2 linked regions of the Homo sapiens genome follow. The protein of the gene in region 1 purifies or fractionates together with the protein of each later gene. This does not show direct contact. Each region holds a gene or a part of one and is shown in the gene's direction. Other genes may lie near its edges. The genes, in order: DENND5A and BEND3.

Region 1 (2,833 bases):
TTGAGATGGAGTTTCGCTCTTGTTGCCCAGGCTGGAGTGCAATGGTGTGATCTCGGCTCACCACAACCTCCGCCTCCTGGGTTCAAGTGAGTCTCCTGCCTCAGCCTCCCGAGTAGCTGGGATTACAGGCATGCGCCATCACGCCTGGCTAGTTTTGTATTGTTAGTAGAGACGGGGTTTCTCCATGTTGGTCAGGCTGGTCTTGAACTCCTGACCTCAGGTGATCTGCCTTCCTTGGCCTCCCAAAGTGCTGAAATTACAGGCGTGAGCCACCATGCCTGGCCAACATTTAGAAGCTTACTTGTCCTAATTAAATACAGAGCATGGAAGAAGGTTTTGAGGGTCCAAAAATGAAGTGTACATTCATACAATATGCTGAAAAGGTAGAGGAGAAAGATCAGAGAAGACTTCAGGGAGGAGTTGGTATTTAAGTGAGCCTTTAATGGAAGGAAATAACAGAACGTGGCAAGGGCAGTAATAGGAAACACAGTTGAAAGGAGGGTAGGGCCCCTGAGCTGGGACAGAGAAAGATTCTTTTCATATTAGTACAAAGTTGTTTCATCAGGGGACTGAAGTAATATTAATCTGATATTATGGGTGGTATGCATTAGAGTGGACATGATTATTAGGGGCTATTCCTGTAGGTCAGGTGAGAGAGCATGAAGCTCAAATAAACTTAAGGCAGTTTATTCAGGCTGCATAAAGGGAGAGAATTGGCATAGTGGTTAAAAACAGACTCCAGAACCGCATTCACTAGGTTCAGATCTCAAGTTATCCATTTACTAGCCATGTGATCTTGGACAAGCTACTTAACTTCCATCTACCCTACTTTCTTCATCTATAAAGTGGGGATAATAATAGTACCTACCTCATATCACAGGGTTATCATGAAGATTAAATCTCTTATGTCAGTGCCAGCACATGCTGAGTGTTATGTGAGGTTAGTGCTTATTATTATTCCTGGTGGTGGTAGCTGTGGGAGGAGAGAAGCTCTGGGAGACACCAGTGGTGGGGCTGACTAGGCAGGGCGAGGGAGGCAGGGGAGGAGGAGGCTTGGAGGCTCATGACAGGGCTGATTTGGGTCAGGTTTGTTTGGTGTCCTGGAGCTGAAAGACCTCTTTGCCAGTCCCTGTTTGGGAAAGGGGGGTGTGGGGGGCTGTCAGCTTCTCCAGCTTCAGACTTAGTTCATGGTTTCCCCCTTGGCCTTGCACTAACGCTCTCTCTTCCTTTTCCTTTGCCCCTCTGACCTGCCTGGACTGCTCCCGCTCTGCCAGAGATCACCTCCTACACCACTGGATTGCCCTGCTGGCTGACTGCCCCATCACTGCACACATGTATGAGGATGTGGCACTGATCAAAGACCATACACTTGTCAATTCCTTGATTCGTGTGCTGCAGACATTGCAGGAGTTCAACATCACGCTGGAGACGTCCCTTGTCAAGGGCATCGACATCTGACCTCCCAGCACCAGCCAGCAGCAGGACTGAGAAAGACTCACCCTGCAGCTCTGACCTTTTTTCCCAAAGGGACTTAAGCGATTGTGCAGGAGTAGGAGACAAAATGTACACTCACTGTAAAAAGAAAACTAGAGGATTTTTGGAATAAATAATCTATTTTAGAGTTTATTTGCTGATTTGCTTTTTACACACTTTCATGTGAAAGAGTGATAGGGAGAGGGAGCGAGGCTGGTGCCGCTTATTTTGAAGCTGGTGCCCTCCCTCGCCGTGGCCACATGCTGGAAGCCTGAGGCCTCCCTGGACTGAGCCTGTGGCACTGCGTGCGGGACAGTTATGTTTCCTTGCCCCGTCGCATTAATGAGGCCCTTCCACATCATTTTTAAACTAATGTTTTTCTATATTAACATTATTATGGATATTTGGCTTTCATAGGCCACACACAGGTGTGCTGCGCGGGAAGCCCCATGCTCCAATCAAAGGGATTTTTAGTAGTGCCTCTAAGCAAGCACCGATGAGTCAGTCCCACGTATTTTCTTTTTTGTCAGTATTGTTTGGGAAGGAGACATGCCGGGATGTGTCATCGTGCCAAATACCACATTTCCTGTTGGCACAGTTTCACAGAAGTAAACATAAGCATGTTTTAACAGGTTTTTCTTTTCTTTTTTCTTTTTTAAAATGTTTTATTTATTTAACCCGCCATTGTGTGTTTTTAAGTATTTTCTTTTTTTAAGGAAAGGAAAAGCTTGTCACAATCTAACTGGCTATGTTATTATTATTAAATTTATGTTTTGCAACTTAGAAACCAGCTACAGTATGGCCCACTTAATAAAACACCTGAAACAAAAACTGCATGGATCACTGATTTTTATGGAGGTTTATGAGCAGTGGGTGGCTGCGGGTGCAGTTGGGTCCATCTGTGAGGATGGTCTTGTGGCATCACCTCTCTTTACCAGCAGGCTCGGGGTTGTGGCCTGCCCAGGATGCCCCTGAGGGCCTGGGGTCTCCTGGGTCCTTCTGCCCGCAGTGCTAGGAGCCTTCCTAGCTGTTATGTGGCTGATTCACATGGATGCAGACAGGGTTCTTTCCCCACTCCACAGAGGAGGAGACTGAGACACAGGAGGGAAAAGACCCGGCCAGGGGTGCAGAGGTTGTCACTTGACTGAGACAGGATGGGCCCTTTCTTGAGAGGGTAAGGGAGACCAGGTGTGGGAAGCTGGGGGTCGGGGGAAGCTCTTGAAAGAAAGGTTTGCTTTCCTGGGGATGGCAGGTGGGAGACCTTTATGAGAGGTCCAGCTTCGTTCATTTTTATTCTTCAGGCTGCTTTGGCAGGAAGCTCCAGAAGAAGTGTAACGTGATCAAGTCAGGCACCTCAGAC
Region 2 (3,820 bases), on another chromosome or scaffold:
GCTTGTCCTGTGTGACTCCCCGGCCCACAGGCCTCTGGCAGCTCTGATTAGGCTCACGCTGCTGTCCCAAAAGACCTGGTCTGTCTGCTCTCTCCACAGCAACTGACTATTCAAAGAACTTGATAGAAAGGTACCCCGGGCCACTCCCAGCCGCCTATGGGTTCACTAGAGAATGTCCTTTTGGAAATCTATGGGCTGGACAGGGAAAAGGCCAGTGATCCTGATCAACCGCCCCCTGCTTAGAAGACCATGTCATCTCCCATCCCAGTTCTTTTTTTTTTTTTTTTTCTTTTTTGAGACAGAGTCTTTCTCTGTCTCCCAGACTGGAGTGCAGTGGCGCGATCTCGGCTCACTGCAACCTCTGTCTCCCAGGTTCAAGCGATTCTCCTGCCTCAGCCTCCGGAGTAGCTGGGACTACAGGTGGGTGCCTCCACGCCCAGCTAATTTTTGTATTTTTAGTAGAGATGGGGTTTCACCACGTTGGCCAGGATGGGCTCCATCTCTTGACCTCGTGATCCACCTGGCTTGGCCTCCCAAAATGCTGGGATTACGGGTGTGAGCCACTGCGCCCAGCCAACAGTGGACTTTTTAACCAAATATCCTTTCATGCTTGCTGATTTTTGTTCTGTGTGCATGTACAGTCAGCCCCGCCACATCTGCAGGTTCATCCAACTGCAGGTAGAAAATATTCCAGAAGCTGGAGCTGGACACAGTGGCTCACACCTCTAATCCCAGCACTTTGGGAGGTCGAGGTGGGTGGATTGCTTGAGCCCCAGAGTTTGAGACCAGCTTGGGCAACGTAGGGAGGCCCGTCTCTACAAAATAAAAAACTAGCTGTATGTGGTGGCGCATGCCTGTGGTCCCAGCTGCTTGGGAGGCTGAGGTGGGAGGATGGCTTGAGTCCAGGAGGTTAAGGCTGCAGTAAGACACGATCATACCACTGCACTGCAGCCTGGGTGACAGAACCCATCTTAAAAAAAAAAAAAATCCAAAAGAAAAACCAGTAAAAAATTACACCACGAAAAAACTATACACTATAACCACTATTTATATACCACTTACATTGTATTATTATAAGTAATCTGGAGGTGATTTAAAGTATACAGGAGGATGTACACAGGTTACATGCAAATATTATGCTATTTTTTATCAGGGACTTGAACATCTGTGGATTTGGGTGTCACTGGGAGTCTTGGAACCAACCCCCTGAGGATACTAAGGCATGACTATATTACCTGGTAAAAAATGGGGAAAAGCCACATTATGTATCTTCCCTCTTAAAATGAACACTAAAAAGATGAAGTGTCCTGTAGTGTGTAACTCTTTCCAGCCTATCTCTTTGTGATGTGGTTCTTCCTTTTTTTTTTTTTTTTTTTGAGACGGAGTCTCGCTCTGTCGCCCAGGCTGGAGTGCAGTGGCGCGATCTCGGCTCACTGCAGGCTCTGCCTCCTGGGTTCATGCCATTCTCCTGCCTCAGCCTCCCGAGTAGCTGGGACTATGGGCGCCCGCCACCACGCCTGGCTAATTTTTTTTTGTATTTTTTTTAGTAGAGATGGGGTTTCACCGTGTTAGCCAGGATGGTCTCCATCTCCTGACCTCGTGATCTGCCCGCCTCCAAAGTGCTGGGGTTACAGGTGTGAGCTACCACGCCCGGCCTTCTCTTTTTTCTTTGTTTTTTCTTTCTTTCTTTCTTTCTTTCTTTCTTTTTTTTTTTTTTGAGACGGAGTTTCGCTCTTGTTGCCTAGCCTGGCGTTGAATGGCGCGATCTCGGCTCCTCACAACCTCCGCCTCCCGGATTCAAGCGATTCTCCTGCCTCAGCCTCCTGAGTAGCTGGGATTACAGGCACGCGCCACCATGCCCAGCTAATTTTGTATTTTTAGTAGAGATGGGGTTTCTGCATGTTGGTCAGGCTGGTCTCCAACTCCCATCCTCAGGTGATCCGCCCGCCTTGGCCTCCCAAAGTCCTGGGATTACAGGCGTGTGCCACCGTGCCTGGCCTCTTTTTTCTTTTTCTTTTTTCCTAGGCTTAGCTCAGCTGTCTGAGGGACATAGAACAGACATCCCTTGGGGAGAAAGTTGATTTTGGGGAACGTGTGGATGTGTTGACTGTCCCATAATTTGAGGTTTATGGTGGGAGGCATGAGAACATTTTGAAAATGAGAGAATGTCAGAATGAGAAGTTCTCCAGAGTCCAGGAGGCAAAGGGAATGCTCACAGCAGCCTTTAGGAGGTGGGTGCTGTGGTGGTTGGGTAGTTGTGGCAGCGCCTACGTAGCCTATAGTCAGGTAGGCGAGAGGAATGTCTGTGGCATGCTAGGCATCTGGGTGCTGGGTGTCCACCCAGGAGGAGCAGAGCTTGTGACCCTCATCTGGGCAGGTGACCAGGAAATGGAGGTAGCAGTGTGCTCCCCATCCCCTTTCTGCCCAGCTGTGACATTGTTGGTGTGCTGTCCCTGCGCCAGCTGGGGATGCAGGGAGTGGCCTACACATCTCTCTTGTAGAAGCTTTTCTGTATTGTGGGGTGGAGTCTGTTTCTACGCACGGAGCAGACTGACTTTCCAGAGTGCTAATGGAGGCAGAAGGAGATGTGGTTTCCTGGTGCTGTTGGACAGAGGGACTCAAATTTGGAAACAGGCCCATGGTTCATCAGAAGAAGCTTAACAAAAGAATGAAGACTCTATTATTTCCTCCCTGGCTGGCTGAGGGAAGGCACAGAAAGACTCGATTTGAAGCCAGGTTCTGCCACTCAGTGATGTGACACTGGAGGAGTTACCTGTCCTGGGTTTCTCTATTTGTTGAAATTGGAACTAAAATAGCTCAGGGTGAGGCACAGGCACACATGCAGTGGCCAGCCCAGTGCCTGGTGTGAAGTTGGTGGGCTGCAGATGTTACAGGGGATGCTCACCTCACTCCCCACTGCGCAAGCCAGGGGCAGGCGCGAGGTTTCCAGGCCTTGCAAATGGGAGATTCCCCAGCTTCTTAATGAGTGAAGCTGATTTGCTGGCCCGGAGGGAAGGGGCCCACCATGCTGTGTTCTGGGCTACTTCTGGGCTAACCTAGCATCTGTCACTAGTCTATAAATGGACACGGAAGTGTTTTCCAAAGCACAAGCACTCGGTGTCTTGAATGCCCAGGCAGCCGCACCAGCACCCCTTCCTCCCACCTCAGCTGCATGAGCCCTCTGGGGTTTCTGCCCACTGCAGGTGGCTGAGATGTGTGCTCTTCCTTCATCACTTTATAGGGGCTCAAAATTCAGAGGCCAAATTGCCTGCTGTAGGGTCACATGGTGGTGGTTCAGAAAATAGCCTCCTTCCAACCCCACTGGAAACAAGGAAAAATAAAAAATCAGAAAATAGGTTTTCTGCTCACCAAGCCACATTCCCGGCAGGCTCCATGTGGCAGCCTGGACTCCAGCCCTGCACTGCTCCCTATGTGATGGGCCTGCCAGAGACACATGGTTGGGCGAATATAATGGCAGATAAATAGACTGCCCTTCTCACCACCCATGGCCCTGTCTGCTGTGTTCTCTCATCGACGCCTGTTTTGTTTTGTTCTAGTATTTGCCCATCCTTTTAGTGCTTTCCACTTACCAGAATCTTTGACTCTTTGCAATTTTTCTTTCACCATGACCCTTTTCCTCCCCAAATAAACCAACCGCTGTCTCCTCCCTCTCTGCCTTTTCTCTGCCAAATGTAATTTGTTTTGTAAAGTATGTCCGCCTCTGACAGCCATCGTTTTGCCCCATCTGTTCTGCATCTCAGAACTCCCCTTGATTGGCAGGAATGGGTTATGTGACCATGGCAGTTTCCAAGGGCAGGGG

What was found.
Region 2: the proteins of DENND5A (region 1) and BEND3 purify together in Homo sapiens (affinity purification with mass spectrometry; one large-scale study listed by BioGRID and IntAct). This does not show direct contact.

What each region holds. Positions count from the first base shown.
Region 1 is NC_000011.10:9,138,296-9,141,128, reverse strand, and holds the end of DENND5A (DENN domain-containing protein 5A), read left to right. Parts: intron 1-1,274; coding exon 1,275-1,458; 3' UTR 1,459-2,304; downstream 2,305-2,833.
Region 2 is NC_000006.12:107,101,846-107,105,665, reverse strand, and holds part of BEND3 (BEN domain-containing protein 3), read left to right. Parts: intron 1-3,820. UniProt on the Homo sapiens protein: Transcriptional repressor which associates with the NoRC (nucleolar remodeling complex) complex and plays a key role in repressing rDNA transcription.